Regions from separate parts of the Homo sapiens genome. Here region 1 is linked to region 2. Evidence: fine-mapped expression QTL. A gene starts in region 2. The other region holds a variant in brackets. All regions are shown on one strand. Distances are between the middles of the regions. Region 1 overlaps LOC124903551 (a long non-coding RNA gene). Region 2 holds the start of PLIN1 (perilipin 1).

Evidence for each region. PIP is the estimated chance that this variant, and not a neighbour inherited with it, causes the effect.
Region 1: its variant is fine-mapped to the expression of PLIN1 in breast (GTEx, PIP 0.99).

The regions. Positions count from the first base shown.
Region 1 is chr15:89,815,546-89,824,234 of GRCh38, forward strand. It overlaps LOC124903551 (a long non-coding RNA gene), which reads right to left. Exons shown (of 2, transcript XR_007064753.1): 2 at 7,639-8,154. Among named protein-coding and RNA genes, the nearest start is that of ANPEP, 5.0 kb to the left of the region's middle. RefSeq lists a promoter at 1-397 and enhancers at 6,231-6,731, 6,732-7,232. The variant T/G (reference allele first, on the strand shown) is at 4,995.
Region 2 is chr15:89,674,486-89,683,174 of GRCh38, forward strand. It overlaps PLIN1 (perilipin 1), which reads right to left and starts at 4,882. Exons shown (of 9, transcript NM_002666.5): 1 at 4,766-4,882; 2 at 2,960-3,018. The coding sequence starts at 3,004. It overlaps PEX11A (peroxisomal biogenesis factor 11 alpha), which reads right to left. Exons shown (of 3, transcript NM_003847.3): 3 at 7,050-8,689.

The DNA.
Region 1 (8,689 bases), 140 kb after region 2:
ACAGGGTTTCACCATGTAAGGCTCGTCTCGAACTCCTGACCTCAAGTGATCCGCCCGCCTTGGCCTCCCAAAGTGCTGAGATTACAGGAGTGAGCCACCACACCTGGCCTGCGCCTCTCATCTTGATCCTGCTTGCAGAGGTTGTGCAGCCACCGGAGCCCCGCCAGGGTGGGGCTCCCTGTCTCTGAGCAGCTTTAATGGGCGGTACCAGATAATATTTGTATTGGTTCCCTGTGGCTGCCGTAACACAAACATAAAACAACACTAATTTACTATCTTACAAGTTTTGTAAAATCAGAAGTCCAAAATGGGTCTCGCTGGACTAAAAGCAAGGGGGTTGAGGGATACAGCTTTCTTGAGGCTGGAAGGGAACCTGTTTCTTTGGCTTTTCTGGCTTCTAGAAGCTGCCCACATTCCTTGGCTGGTGGCCCCATCCATCTTCAAAGCCAGCAGTGGCCCACCAGTCTCTCACAATCTGTCACTCTGACACCAACTGTTCTGCCTCTTGCTTCCACTGGTGAGCATCTTTGTGATTACATCGGGCCTACCCAGATAATCCAGGGTAATCTTTCTATTTTAAATCAATGGATTGGCAACTTGAATTCCACCTGCAACTGTAATTTCCCTTCGTGGGGTAGCATAACATATTCACAGATTCTGGGCATTAGAACCAGGGCATCTTTTGAGGAGGAGGATATGATTATGTCTACCACAATATTCAAGCTGACTTCCAGACTTTCAGATTTATAATCAAATTTAAGCTCTTCCTTATCCATGATTGGAATCCTTGGGACAGTTAAAGCCTTGCACTGCATGGTCCAAATTGATGGCTTTGTGACTGGCTGTGTTTTATTATTTTACTTGCACTTGCTCTTCTTTTGGAAACTTCATGGAGGACCAGGGTACCTCTAGGTAGCAGCCTTGCTTCTCCTTCCTAATTTGCTCTGTACTCTTAAAAACCAGGTCACAAACATATCGGAATATAGAATTGTGTGTAAAGTAAGAGTAAGTAGGCTGTGAGTGAGACCTCAGAGGCTATTTTGTTTTTTTTCTCTCTCCAGTCTCATGCATGTCTGACTCTCTCCACTATCATATCTGGCATAATCTCCTCCATGTCTGACAAGCCAAGGAAAACACTACATCAGGCCAGGAGAGAATCTTCCCCCCGGAGCTCTGCCTCTCCCACCCAGGCTCCGCGGAGATTTTAAGAGGAGTAAAGATCCTGCTGTGGCAGAAGTGCAACCCAGCTTTCTGGAGGGCAGTTTGGGGTTAGGAATGAAGATCACTTTCAGAAATTTAGCCTGAAGAGGCTGGGCGTGGTGGCTCATGCCTGTAAGGCAGGTGGATCACTTGAGGTCGGGAATTCAAGGCCAGCCTGGGCAACCTGGTGAAACTGTGTCTGTACTAAAACACAAAAATCAGCCAGGTGTGGTGGCGCATGCCTGTGGTCCCACCTACTTGGGAGGCTGAGGCACGAGAATCGCTTGAACCTGGGAGGCAGAGGCTTCAGTGAGCTGAGATCACATGACTGCACTCCAGCCTCGACTACAGAGCAAGACTGTCTCAAAAAAATAAATAAATTTAGCCTAAGGAAATAGAATATTTATATGCAAGGCTTTTCACTGCAGTATTACTTATAATACTGGAAAATCAGAAATAGCCTAAGTGGGCTGGGCGTGGTGGCTCATGCTTGTAATCCCAGCACTTTGGGAGGCCAAGGCAGGCAGATTACGAGGTCAGGAGTTCGAGACCAGCCTGGCCAATGCAGTGAAACCCTGTCTCTACTAAAAATACAAAAATTGGGTGGGCATGGTGGTGGGTGCCTGTAATCCCAGCTACTGGGGAGGTTGAGGCAGGAGAATCGCTTGAACCCGGGAGGTGGAGGTTGCAGTGAGCCGAGATTGCGCCACTACACTCCAGCCTGGGTAACAGAGAGAGACTCTGTCCACCCCCTGTGAAAAAAAAGATGAAGAGACAGTGCTTGCTCCTGCAGAAAGAAAATTCATGGGCTCATAAACATGTAAAAAGATGTTCAATAACTCACTTATTAAGAAAATGAAAATTATAACTACAAAAGATACTATTCTTCACTTACCAGATCAGCAAAGATAAAAAGCAGTTTGGTAGGTCAGGCACAGTGGCTCATGTCTGTAATTCCAGCACTTTGGGAGGCTGAGGCAGGAGAATCACTTAAAACCAGGTGTTCGAGACCAGCCTGGGCCACGTGGCAAAACCCTGTCTCTACCAAAAAAAAAAAATTAGCCAGGCGTGGTGGCACGTGCCTGTAGTCCCAGCTACTTGGAAGAATGAGGTGGGAGGATTGCTTGAGCCTGAAAAGTCAAGGCTGCAGTGAGCCATGATCGTGTCACTGCACTCCAGCCAGAGCGATAGAGTGAGTCCCTGTCTCAAAAAAAAAAAAAAAAGTTTGGTAACACACTATTCGCAAGGGTGGGAGGAAAACAGGCAACCCCCTGCATTGCTGGTTGGTGTGTAGACTGACTCGACCTCAAAAGAGAATATTTGGGCAGTATTTATCAAACATATAAACACATGTCCTGTTTGACTTGGCACTTCCAGAAATTTATCCTACAGATAATGCTCACACGTAAGTGAAAGGAATACACAAGGCTTTCCACTGCATCGCTGCAACATTGAGCCAAAACCACAATGACTTTTGCACCAATCTAATAGCTGGAGACAACCTAAATGTCCACCAATAGAGATGGGATAAATGAATGATTATTGTATGCCCTGCAATGGAATGCATATGGCTATCAAAAATAACTAGGATTCTCCTTACAGAACGCTCCCCAGGACAGGTTGTTTAGTAATAAAACCTAGACGCAGAGCCGTGTTCAAGTCGTTTATCAATTGTACTTAAATGGAAAAAGCACAGAGACACACAATTTGCTTTTATATGTGCACGCGCTGATAACACGAGTTGTTTCCCAGGAAGGAAACTGGAGCTGGAGAACAGGGTGGGAAACGCATTTTTCAGCATATCCTTTTGTTCTCTTGAATCTTGAACCATGTGAATACCGTGTCTAATCAAAATATAAATAAAATTAAAAGTGAAGACGAAAGACCAGAAGATTAACAGGCTTTATAATATAATTTTTTTTTTGAGATGGAATTTTGCTCTTGTTGCCCAGGCTGGAGTGCAATGGCGCAATCTTGGCTCACTGCAACCTCCGCCTCCTGGGTTCAAGCGATTCTCCTCCCTCAGCCTTCCGAGTAGCTGGAATTACAGGCGTGTGCTACCACACCCACCTAATTTTGTATTTTTAGTAGAGACAGGGTTTCTCCATGTTGGTCAGGCTGGTCTCAAACTCCCAACCTCAGGTGATCCACTTGCCTTGGCCTCCCAAAATGTTGGGATTACAGGCGTGAGCCACTGCGCCTGGCTATAATATAAAAATTTGAATGCCAGGTGAGGTGGCTCACATCTGTAATCCCAGCACTTTGGGAGGCCGAGGCAGGGGCATCGATTGAGGCCAAGGCAACATAGCAAGACCCCATCTCTATTTTAAAAACTTTTTTTAACTTGGCTGGGCGCAGTGGCTCATGCCTACAATCCCAGCACTTTGGGAGGCTGAGTCAGGTGGATCACCTGAGGTCAGGAGTCCCGGCCAACACGGTGAAAATCTGTCTCTACTAAAAATACAAAAATTAGCCGGGCATGGTGGCAGGCACCGGTTATCCCAGCCACTCAGGAGGCTGAGGCAGGAGAATCACTTGATCCTAGGAGACAGAGATTACAGTGAGCTGAGATCGCACCATTGCACTCTAGCCTGGGCGACAAGAGCAGAACTCTTTCTCAAAAAAAAAATAAATAAAAATTATAAACTTATATTTGTGGATGAAATGATTTGATGTCTCAGGTTTGCTTTGACCTAATCCAGAAGGGGTGGAGAAGTCAGGAATGCTCAATACAGCATGATTTAAAATAGGGGAAAATCAGAAACAATTAGATGTTCAGTAATGGAGGATTGGTTAAATAAATTATGGGCTTCTATATGAAAAAAGTACTATGCTACCATTCTAAAAACAATAAATCATAGCTGGACGCGGTGGCTCACGTCTGTAATCCCAGCACTTTGGGAGGCCGAGGCAGGTGGATCACCTCAGGTCGGGAGTTCGAGACCAGCCTGACCAACATGGAGAAACCCCATCTCTACTAAAAATACAAAAATACCCGGGCATGGTGGCGCATGCCTGTAATCCCAGCTACTCAGGTGGCTGAGGCAGGAGAATCACTAGAACCCAGGAGGCAGAGGCTGCGGTGAGCCGAGATCGCGCCACTGCACTACAGCCTGGGCAACAAGAGCGAAACTCTGTCTCAAAATAATAATAATAATAATAATAATAATAAATCATATTTTAGAAGTATTGAAAGAGTACTTTCTGTTTTGTTTTGCTAATAATCGTGGAGTGGGAAGACCTTTTTAGGTATATGAAATCCATACTCCACAAATGAAAAGACCGCTACAGTTGACTACATAAAGGTAAAAATCTCTGCATTGCACAACCACCACAAGCAAAGTCAAAAAGAACCCTCCATAACAGGGGAAAATTAGCTATATGTTGCTAACTGTTGACTCTCAGAGATGGGTATATTGAGGGTTCATTATTACTGTTATTTTTTAGTGTGTTTTCAAATTTCCATAACAAAAGGAAAACTTAAATATATACAAACTTCTGTATGGCAAAAGCCAAATATTACACTGGACAATAATATTTGCAACACATATAAACAACAACAGATTAATATCAATAATGTCCTAAAAAGGTCCTACAAGGTGTTTGTAAAAGACATAAAAACAGGCCAGGCGCAGTGGCTCACGCCTGTAATCCCAGCACTTTGGGAGGCTGAGGCGGGAGGATCACGAGGTCAGGTGATCAACACCATCCTGGCTAACATGGTGAAACCCCGTCTCTACTAAAAAAAAAATAATAATAATACAAAAAATTAGCCGGGCGTGGTGGTGGTAGCC[T/G]GTTACTCCCAGCTACTTCGGAGGCTGAGACAGGAGAATGGCGTGAACCCAGGAGGCGGCGCTTACAGTGAGCCGAGATCATGCCACTGCATTCCAGCCTGGGCAACAGAGTGAGACTCCGTCTCAAAATAAATAAATAAACAAACAAACAAACATTAGGGCAGAATAGGACTTGGGAAAATAAAATAAAATAAAAACAACACAACTGAAAACCGGGCAAAGGATTAGATCTGAAACTTCACAGAGGAGGAAATTTTAAAAGCCAACTAACAGGTGAAAAGATGTTTAACCTTAGTCATACTCAGGAAACACAATTTCAAAACAATGAGATGTCAGTTTTCACTTATGATGTTGGCCAAGGTCTAGACCAACGGATAACATCTAGAGTCGGCCAGGGTGTGGGGAACTGGGATCCCCCCACAGTCCTGGGGCACATGGGAATCGCTATGAATAAAATGGCAAGCCCTATTCACAATTTAACCACAGCTACCCTTTCATCCAGTGATCCTGTTTTGGGGAATTTATCCTAAACCCAGGGAGTAACGAAACTACTGCTTAAACCATTCATGCAGGAGGAGGCTTATTAGAGCATTCCTTGTTCGAGAAGAAAAATAAGCCAAAATGTCTGTAGAGCACCCTTTAAACAAGTGAATAAAGGTCCACAGGAAACAGTGTACACAGTCACAGAGCGTGTGTGCTAACTCTGTATGTATCACCTTGGAATGATGTCTGTTCGTACATTTTTAAGTTCAAAAGCAAGTTCCAAGCAATGCATTTCATCTCACCCTCTATTACAACAGCCCCAGGGATTGTCCCCATTTTATAGAGGAAGCTGATGGCTCAGGCGTGAGTAACCACCCCAGGCCAGTGCCCAGCTTGTGTCAGACCTTCCGAGGAAGCCACATCTGTCTGACCCAGCAAAGCTGCAGGGTCCTCTCTCTGGGTGCGTCATTCGGGTGTATTGTCATGAGTGCTGGGATGAAATGGAAATGAACTTGCCAAATTATTAACCCACTCTGCCTCAGTGAGGTTGACTTGAGCCAGGGGTGGGCTGGGGGAGGGAGACAGGGGAGAGACTATCCATTTTTTCCTTATATGCTTGTTTATTCTTTGAATTGTTAGAACAAACGTGAGATTTTCATAGCAACCACCCACCACTACAAAACCATTAAAATACTGCTTAAAGGGTGAGGTGCAGTGGCTCATACCTGCAATTCCAGCACTTTAGGAGGCAGAGGAGGTTGGATTGCTTGAGGCCGGGAGTTCAAGACCAGCCTGGCCAACATGGCAAAACCCTGTCTCTACTAAAAATACAAAAATCAGCCGGGCGTGGTGACATGCACCTGTAATTCCTGCTTTTTGGGAGGCTGAGGCGCAAGAGTTGCTTGAACACAAGAGGCAGAAGTTGTAGTGAGCTGAGATCGTGCCATTGCACTCCAGCCCAGGCGACAGAGTAATACTCTGTCTCAAAAAAAAAAAAAAAAAAAAAAGAGAGAAAAGAAAAGGTGGAAGTGGGAGGGGCAGGCAGGACTCAGAATGATGCCTCCCTGCTCATCCTGCGTGGCATCCCTTGCTGCCACCTCCATCTCAGTAACTCAGCCCCACGTGGTGCTCGGAAGAGCCCTTGGGAGAGGGTGCGTGATCTCAGGGCGTGGCAGCTTAGTGGGGGACTTTCCCCAAAGACTCCTTCTCTAGGCTGGAGTCCCTTGGTGAGGACGGGAGCAGCTGTTTCTAAACCTCCCTCTCCCCACAAGCTTAAGCAGCACAGGCTGCCTGCAGGCACTTTGGTCAGCTGTGTGTATGCGTGGCTCCCGTGCACCGAGGATGACTGGTCTACCTGGGCAACAACAGCAGGGATAATAAGCTCCGTGGGCGCAGGGTTCCTGCCTGCGCTGTTTTCCACTGTATGCAGCACTTAGCACAGGACTTGGCACATATAGGGCGAACTAAAGAACCAAAGCAGGGCATGATGGTGTGCATCTGTCATTCCAGTTTCTCAGGAGGCTGAGGTGGGAGGATCGCTGGAGCCCAGGCCTTCGAGGTCAGCCTGGATAGAATGGTGAGATGACAGAAACCCCCACACTGTGACGAGGGAGGGCAGGAGAAGGTGAGTGTCCATGGGGCACTGTTGAGGAATGAGGTGCATTGTCAGATGGACAGGTGGAGGGAGGGTGTCCGTAGCAGAGGGACCAACATTTCCAAAAGCAGGGGGTCCGGTGCATGGCGAGGGGGAGGCTGGAGTGCTCAGGGACAGTGGAGCCCTGAATGCCGAGCTAGGGAATTGAGCTCTATTCCTGGGAATCCTGAATCCCTGATGAAGTTGGAGAAAAGGACACTGATGGAATTAGGTTTGCCTTTTAGAGAGAGCCCCTGGGGACAGTTTGGGGACCAGATTGGAAGGGTGCCAGGTAGGAGGCAGGAAGAGCAGTTGGTGGCGGGTGGGGGGGTGGGGTGCCCTCCAGAGACAGAAGGAGAGCAGTTCAGGGATATTCCAGAGGTGGCTTCAGGAGGCCTGGTGACCAGCAGTGGGGGAGGGAGTCAGGGGAATGGGGCACCAGGGCTGCTGCTGGGGCTGGGGAGGGCAGTGCTAGAGTCAGTACTTCCTGGCACTGAGATTTTTTTTTTCAATTTCTTATTGCTGTTGTTTTCAAGAACTCAGTTTGGATTTTATTATAAAATTGATTAAAAACACATTTTTTGGAAAAAAAAAAAAGACAAAGAGTAGCTTTTACAATGAACTTCTTTGGGAACTTTCTCAGGAAGTGGGAAAGGGCCTGTTGTTGTCCAGGCTGTGGAAGGGATGGAAAGGACCTAGAGCCCACAGAGGTCCCTGAGGTGGCAGCAGGGCAGGGCAGAGTGGGGTGGGGGGAGGAATGGACCAGGCAGGTGGGGACGCCAAGTCCCGCATGGCACCCCTCGGCGGGCTCCCTCCCCAGTGCCCCCTGGATGCCACACCTAAGCACGGATGTGGTTCCCCCAGGAGTCCCCCAGGGCAGGGCAGGGCAGGGACCCTGCAGAGGAATGCTGGGTAGGAGGCAGCTTTGTGGTCAGACAGACTTGGCTTCCTCAGAAGGTCTGACACAAGCTGGGCACTGGCCTGGGGTGGTTACTCACGCCTGAGCCATCAGCTTCCTCTGTAAAATGGGGACAATCCCTGGGGCTGTTGTAAGAATTAAATGAGAAAAATCCTGTACAGCATTTAGCAATGCCCAGCCCTTAAGAAGCCCTTGGAGAGGAGCCCCCCAGGGATTGTCTTAGTGGGTCTTTGACCAGGTGGTGTGGCTCACACCTCCAAGCTGTCCCCTCTACAGAGGGGGTTGGGTGGGGGTGGGAGAGGAGACCTCATGCCTTCCGATCTGTCCTGGGCATGAGGTCTCCTCTTCTCCATCACGGATGTCCCACCCACTCCCACGGGTTCACCATCTCCCTGGACACCATCCTCCATTTTCACCCATGGCCTAAGACGTCCTGCCCAGCCCCCTCCACAGAACCAGCTCCTTGTAGTCATCTGAACCGGGCATCCTGGGGGCTCTCAAATATACCTCCAAACCTGACCCTGCCATCCTGCCCCTACACCTTGGCCAAGGGTGCCACGCCCATCAGGCTCTTTGCCTCCCTGTCCCCTATCCAATAGGCCTCAATTCTGCTCAATTCTGCAGCCACTGCCCTGTGCTCTGCCTTAGGGGAGGACGCGG
Region 2 (8,689 bases):
CTGCCTCAGCCTCCCAAATCACTGAGATTATAGGCCTAAGCCATTGCGCCCAGCCAAGACTTATATTTGAATGTCTCCCTGAATGAGAGCTCTCCCCCTCACAAAGTGGCCTGTGTCCCTTGTTGGACAGCTTTGCTGAGCTGAAATTTGCCTCCACCCCCCTGTTCCACACTCTGCCCTCTGGAACAAAACTGAGCAAACCTATTTCCTCATCCATGGGTTGGCCCTTCACATATTTGAAGTCAAATATGTCTCCCTTTAGAAGTGCCGCCATCATGTTAAATGGCTCCAGTTCCTAACTTCGTTTACAAATGGTTCACACTGTGGTCTGGTGACCCCCTCTCCTGGACATGCTACAGTTTTACATTATCTTTCTTAAAAATATACTACCCTCGCTTGAGCCCAGGAGTTTAAGGCCAGCCTGGGCAACACAGGGAGACCCCGTCTCTACAAAAAAAAATAATAAATAATAATAACATAATTAGCAGGGCATGGTGCTGTGTGCCTGTGGTCCCGGCTACTCGGGAACCTGAGGCGGGAAGATCGCATGAGTCCGGGAGTTGGAGGCTGTAGTGAGCCATAATCACGCCACTGTACCACAGCCTCGATGACAGAATGACACCCTGTCTCAAAAAACAAAAAACAAACAAACAACACTCAAAGACAGCACTCTGGGTGCGATCTGCACGTGCTGGGTGTAGTGGAACAATCGTTTATCATTTCCGGGGTGCTGTGCTGTTAGTAATGCACCTTTGGCAGCAGTCACATAATTAAGTTTTAGGTCACCTAGGAACCTTAGTGAAAAAACACTGGTCTTTGAGTAAAAGAATGAATTCTAGGGCTAAGTGTAGAAGCTCATGCCTGTAATCCCAACACTTTGGGAGGCTGAGGCGGGAGGATCATTTGAAGCCAGGAGTTTGAGACCACTCTGAGCCACAAAAAAAAAAAAAAAAAAAAAAAAAGCTGGCCATGCTAATATTTGATGGCATGTGGACTACACAGTCCCAGCTGCTGGGGAGGCTGAGGTGAGAGGACTGTCTGAGACCAGGAGTCCGAGGCTGCAGTGAACTATGACAATGCCACTGCACTCCAGCCGGGGTGACAGAGCAAGACTCTATATCTAAAAAATAAATAAATAAAATTAAAAGAACAAATTCTAGGCATGCAGAGGGAAAGAACATTTGCCAGGTGCCATTATGCTGCAGGCACTGGTCTGGGTGCCTTGGTGACATGAGCTCACTTAATTCTAACAGCCATCCTCTGGGGTCAGCACTGTCACCAACACTGAGTCGATGAGGAGATTGACAATCAGAAACAGGAAGTGATTTACCCAAGATCCCACAGCTGATAAGTGGCAGAGCCAGGATTCCAACACAAGTTGGAAATGGCCTACCTGGGATTACCTTCAAAATAACATGAAGTGGGGGAATTAATGGAAGTGAGGACGAGGCGGGATTGGCCACGAATTCATGGTCTTCGGGGCTAATAAAGGGTACGTGGGGCTTCCTATGTTCTTTTCTGTCTATTCTTATGAATGTTGAGAATTCTCCATATCAAAAGTAAAAAGAAAAAAAAACCCAGGTCAGATTCCGATGCTCAGGCTCTCTGTAGCTTTGAATATGACACTGTGGCATGGTTTTGCTCGCAAAGTGAAGACCTGACCTGTTCTGTTAGTAGGAGGCAGAGTTCAAAGACCCCCATCAATGACACCTACATGTACACTAAGACAGAGCAGCCCACAATATCTTAGTTTTTTTTTGTTGTTTGTTTGTTTGTTTTTTTGAGATGGAATCTCGCTGTCTCCCAGGCTGGAGTGCAGTGGCGCGATCTCAGCTCACTGCAAGCTCTGCCTCCTGGGTTCATGCCATTCTCCTGCCTCAGTCTCCCAAGTAGCTGGGACTACAGGCGCCCGCCACCATACCCCGCTGATTTTTTGTATTTTTAGTAGAGATGGGGTTTCACTGTGTTAGCCAGGATGGTCTTGATCTCCTGACCTTGTGAACCGCCCGCCTTGGCCTCCCAAAGTGCTGGGATTACAGGCGTGAGCCACTGCACCTGGCCAATATCTTAGTTTTTTATCCTGCAGGTGAATTTGAAATTTGAACTAGAAATAGACTATGACTATAAACAAGAAAACATTCTTTTTAACATTTTGGACGAGGCTTCAGAGGTTGTTTTACACAAAACCGAAGGAGGAAAGAGATCCTGGGAAGGGAATAAACCACCGTCTGTTAGAATGGCTTAACCATGTACTTGACCATTTTACGCCTCTCTCTGTTCTATGATTCAATACAAAACAAAGTGATTCCTAGTGCAGGAGTTAGTAAAAGCGTAACTTGGGCAAGGTGGATATTGCACAGGTTCATAATTTTTAAGTTTCACTATCCGAACTGTGCCCAAATCTGAGATGCCTTGCCAGGAGCCATCAAGCATCCCTAAAAGTATCAAATCACTTCAAGTCACAGTGAAAACCAGGTCAGAGATAGAACACCAGACACATGGAATATCCCACCCTTCCCCCCACACAGCAGCACAGGCTGTGCACCGTCTAACTCCGACAGGTGACATTTGCCGTTATGAATGATGCTGGAGACACAGAATACAGTGGCTCTGCACTGAATGCACATCCAGCTGGGTGGTGGACAGAGCATGGGCTTCTGCGTCAGGGTTTAAACAGTAGTTTCCTTCCTCTCCACTCCCCCCGTCCCTAAGCCAGGATTTCTGTCCCTTTTTTTCAAGGTGCTTAATTTTTAATAGGCATCTTTTTTTCCCCTCCCAGATCCTCCAACTGCCCCCTACAAAAGGTGGTGAGGGCAAGAATAACTAAGCCATGGTAGTCAATGAACTAGGATTATAATCTGGGAATATCTTGCTCTAAGTCCCCTGCATCTCCCCTCCCTGCTTCTTCCTCCTCCCTCAGTTGTCCATCCCCTGTCACAGATGAGCCCAAGTTACTTACAGGGAGGTCTCCATCCAGCAAGGTGAGGCCTTTGTTGACTGCCATCCTCGCTCCTCAAGCTGCAAAACAGAGTCCCAGGTCCCATCAGAAGCCCTCAGGCTTGAGCTCCACTGGGTCACTTCCCTACCTCTCATGGCCACCAACTAGGCCCAGGCTGCCTGGGGGCCCATTTGCCCTGAACAGAAGGCATTAGGTTGGAGGGTGAATATCACACACAATAGCCCCACTCCTTAGGGTCCCATAGCAATGAGTTGCTCCATAGCTTACTTGTCAAGACTGATGTTTCTTTCTTTTTCTTTTCTTTCTTTCTTTTTTTTTTTTTTTGAGATGGATTCTTGCTCTGTTGCCCAGGCTGGAGTGTAGTTGCACAATCTCGGCTCACTACAACCTCCGCCTCCCGGGTTCAAGGGATTCTCCTGCCTCAGCCTCCCAAGTAGCTGGGATTACAGGCGCCCACCACCACGCCCGGCTAGTTTTTTTTTTTTTTTCTGTTTAGTAGAGATGGGGTTTCACCATGTTGGCTAGGCTGGTGTCGAACTCCTGACCTCAAGTGATCCACCTGCCTAGACCTCCCAAAGTGCTGGGATTACAGGCATGAACCACCACACTGGCTAATTTTTGTATTTTTAGTAGAGATGGGGTTTCATCATGTTGGCCAGGCTGGTCTCGAACTCCTGGCCTCAAGTGATCTGCCCACCTTGGCCTCCCAAAGTGCTGTGATTACAGGCAAGAGCCACCATGCCCGGCCAAGAATAATGTTTCCTATAAGAGTTCAGGTTAAGAGGCCAGGCGCGGTGGCTCAGGCCTGTAATCCCGGCACTTTGGGAGTCCAAGGCAGGCAGATCACCTGAGTTCAGGAGTTCAAGACCAGCCTGGGCAACATGGTGAAACTCCGTCTCTGCTAAAAATACAAAAATTAGCCAGACGTGGTGGTGGGCAGCTGTAATCCCAGCTACTTGGGAGGCTGAGGCAGGAGGATCGCTTGAGCCTGAGAGGTGGAGGTTGCAGTGAGCTGAGATCCTGCCACTGCACTCCAGCCTGGGTGACAGAGGGAGACTCTGTCTCAAAAAAAAAAAGGAGTTCAGGTTAGGAAATAAAAAATGCAGGTAGCCATAAGAGATAAAAAGTTTTAGATAAAATCTTAAGGCTCTTAAATGAGGGTCCAAAAGAGACTAAAACAAGAAGTTTCAAGCTGGGTGCACTGGCAAGCACCTGTAATCCCAGCTACTGAGGCTGACATGGGAGAATTGCTTGAGCCCAGGAGTTTGAGATCAGCCTCGGCAATACAGTGAGATGCCCATCTCTAAAAAAATAAATAAACAAGTTAAAGGTTTCATCTTTGAAAAGGCTCTGGGTTAATTCCTCTATTTCTCTCTTTCTCTCTGTCTGTCCCTCTCCCCCTCTCCCTATCTGTTTTTTGAGACAGGGTCTCAATCTGTTGCCCAGGATGGAATGTGGTGGCACGATCATGGCTCAATGCAGCCTTGACCTCCTGGGATCAAGGTACCCTCCCACCTCAGCCTCTCATGTAGCTGGGACTACAGGCATGCACCACAATGCAGGGCTAATTTTTTCTCTTTTTTTATAGAGACAGGATCCCACTGTGTTGCCCAGGTTGTTCTTGAACTCCTGGGCTCAAGTGATCCACCTGCCTTGGCCACCTGCAGTGCTGGGATTAAAGGCATGATCCACTGTGCCTATCCAATTCCTCTATTTCTAGATTCTGGTATCTATACCAGAATCTCTCCCTCAGTAGTTTCCCTGCAGAGTTTTTCATCCCCAGCAAAATCCCCAAGAGGCCCTTACCTTCAACTTCTTCCCTTTAATGTTCATAAACAAGCCATGTAAGGCAGGTGCCCCAGGACCCCAACACTCACTCCGGCTGACCGCCACCTCAGTCTCACAGAGCCCAGGCTGCAGAGTGTCTCCTCAGGCAGAAACAATTCCTGTCACTCCTGGGAGGCTTGGGCAATGCTGCTTCCACCTCCCAGCTAGAGGAGGGCAGAGAGGGAGAGACAACAGGGTCAGCCAGTTGTCATGGTTATATGACCCAGGGTTCCCCAGGCATATCCTAACTTCTCTAAGGACATTTAGCAAACAAGGAGGTAGGTGGCAGAGCTGAAGGAGATCCAGGCTCAGAGGACTTAGTATTCCAGAGCCATGAAGCATCAGTTCTGTAATGTTCCTGCCCTCAATTCACAAAAATCTGCTTTCCAGAAAGAAGGTATAGGGATAGACATCATTAAACTCAAAAGCTCTAAAGTTCTATATACCTCTGCAATCTTTTGGCTCCTTTTCCATAGAGGGTCTTGTGGGAGTTTTCAATCCATTTCTCTCATCTTTTCTTATTTACTAGCAAGACTGAATGCTGAACAGTAAAATTTAAACCCACACAGAAGAGTTCATCTGAATGTATTCATCTTTGATTATGGAGATAAATTGCCCTCAGTGAAGAAGCGACAGAGCCGGGAGTTGAGTTTTTGACAATATAGCCTTTGAGTTGAGGGAGGAATTCCCACTTCTTAGAATTCAAAAAAATTTATTGAACTTTACCTGGCCTAAGATGCTACCAGAATGAAGAGTAGGAGAGCCAAGTAGATTTTTATTCTCCTGGGTCTGGATAAGCGACAGTGTTGACTAGGATTCTATCACTAATCAAGAGCACCCAGACAGCCAAGAATTAGCACCACTCAACCCTTCTTTACCCAGGACTCAAGCACAAGCCCAAGTTCTAGTTCCTGGCTTTAGATATGATGGAGGACTATGGTATAAGCCATAGCTTTCAGATTAACTAAGAAGGGCCTCTTCATGAAAACAGACAATAGGAAAACAAAACTTATTTTCTTTGTTGCTGGTGGAATTATATGTATTGTTGACTCTGTTAAGTCACACAGTGTGGGCAAGAGAAGAAAGAGGCAGGGGTGGGGAATTATGAAAGATCCTTGGTAATAAATTACGTATCTGTGATGCAATAAAGTAGGGAATGAGAAGGCAGGAAAGGGAGGAGTCAAGCAGGGAGGCTTCAAAGGAGTAATACGCTATACGTTTAATACTTATTGATCCAACCTGTGCTTTTCAAATGTAAGGCAGTAGAGAAGACAAAGTATTTAAAGAAGTGGCCTCTGCCCTCACCTCAAGGTTCAGCACAAATTATCTGTGAGGCTGTGACTGGACAGCAACCTGAGCCAAAGGGCAGTTTTCAGCCTTCAGAGTAGTGGCTTTGGGCCAGAGGGAACATAGGGCTTTGTGCCTGAAAGCTCTGCCAAATCAAATAGTCCTTTGGCTGCTTTAGCTGGGAGTGCAGAATGTGGGTGAGAGGTGAGAAGTGGTGAAAGGGCCTAGGAGAGTCCCGAGGGAAGACAGAAGTGTTAGTTTTCTAGCAGTAGCTTGCAGGGCATAGAGTTCTATCTTCTTTCCTTCTCCGTACCTACCTGCTTTCCCTACCCCTCCACCAAGTGAGAGCAGGGACCTAGGTCATCTTGCTCACAAGTGGATACCCAAAACCATGCATGGCACTCAAACATTCATTGTTGAATAAATGAATTGTCAGGCAACAATGCTCAGTTGTGAATGTGCTGGGCTGTACATCTACGAAGAACTTCTTCGATTTTTGGCATCCCTCATGAATGTGGAGGCTCTGGGGTGGAAAACATTAGTTACAAAGAAGGATTCACAGGGTGGTACCAGGACACCATTAAGGTTTACACAAACCTCTTAGAAGAGGTAGTATTTCCCAAACTCCCCACCACTCACCATTGCAGAGGACAAAAGTACCAAGATGGATACCACTGTAACATAACATACCACCATGAATTCAAGGCAGACTTACCTAGGCAGAAGCCAGCCAGCGATTGACAGGGCTACTGTAGAGCACCATCTCCATGGCAGCAGTCTAGATGAGTTCATTTCAGAGGTCCCTCTCAACCCAGAGGCTCTACATCTCAATCTTTCTCCATCCTCCTCCTCAGCCTGGATCTTCTAGCCCAGAGCTCGCTGTACCAACTGTGTAGGCTGATTGAGGATTATCTGATGGATTGCCTTATGTTTAACTCTTCTCTCTTCCCAGAACACACTCACAGACACAAGTCAATTTTGTCTAGAAATTTATTGAACATAGTTAATCTATTACAGTAGAGGATCTGGACAATAAAAATAGTTATTTAAGCTTTTTATTTTCCCTGACCTAGTAGCTTTCATGTCTCTTAAAATTCCCTAAATTTTATTTCTCAAATCCCATATCGTGATTGGTTAAACAGACAGCCAAGAATCTGAGTCTATTTTTTGAGAATCTCAATCACATTTCTGGGAAATGTGACTTATTGAGTACATATTTATTTTCTCATTTCCATTCAGATAAATGACACAGCTTTGCTGGGAGGACTGACATCGGCCTCCTACCTGCTGGCATCCTATTTCTCTACCTCACCTCCCTCAAACTAAAGGATCTGTAACCACATATAAAGACCCACACCCAAGATGGCAGATAGGAACACAAGTCAATGTCATTGACTCAGCATTCCATTGTCCTCTTCACTGGCTTCCTCCTGCGCTTTCCACCTCCCTCAATCACCCTAGAAATAAGATGTCTGATTTATCGTAGAAAATTGTGACTCTCTTACATCTGGAGTATTCATGAAATTTTTTTGACTGGATAAATTTTGATGAAAATTAATGTAGAATTGCCTAAATTGTTAGAAGGATTTAAATAAAACAATCTAACTGATAAGTCTAAATACTGTCTTAATTTTTTTTTAAGACACAGGGTCTTGCTCTATCACCCGGGCTGGAGTGCGGTGGAAGCTCACTGCAGCCTTGAACTCCTGGGCTCAAGTGATCCTCCTGCTTCAGCCTCCAGAGTATCTGGGACTACAGGCATACTCCACCATGCCTGGCTAATTTTTTAACACTTTGTTGTAGAGAAGGAGTCTCACTACATTGCCCAGGCTGGTCTTGAACTCCTGGCCTCAAGCAATCCTTCCGCTTCAGCCTCCCAAAGTGCTGGGATTATAGGTGTGAGCCACCACACTCCACCCAGTTTTAGTTTTTCTAGAAAAGAATATAAACCACTGGACAAGGAAATTTCCAAATTATGGGAGAGTAAGAGGCAAAAAACAGGATTCAGGAGGGGATCACATTTCTACTCAATTCTGAAGACAGTGGGAGAGCATGGAGAGAACACTGGATTAGGAGTCAGAGGAATGAGGCTCTAGCCTCAGTTTTTTGTTTGTCTCACTGTCAGCTTCTTATCTGTCACAGGCTACATATAGGCACCCATTGTGACCCTGTACCTATTTTTATAAGTCCCTCCGGTCTGCTTCTGATTTTTGCTTATTCACTGCACCCATAGACACAATTTATACCATGAAGGTGCCTGATGCTTTTCTGATTCTACTTCTGCACAGAGCAAGGACATGAGTGCAGTGATGGTATAAGGGCCAACAAGTTGAGAGGCTGTAAGCCCAGCTCTCCTCCATCCTGCTACTGACATCAGAGCCTCTACTAGATCTGAGAGTGCCATGCACCAGACCTACTGTAATCGTGAAACCAATGATCCATATGACCCTAAAGTTATTGTATACTGGTGTTCAATGATCAGTGCGATTGGGTCTTTTTAAATTTTTTCCTTTCAATTTTTATTCATTCAGCAAATACTAAGCTCCCACTATGCACATAAGAGATGTTCAATCAATGTTAGATGAAGGGAAAATATTCAGAAATTCACAAGTCACT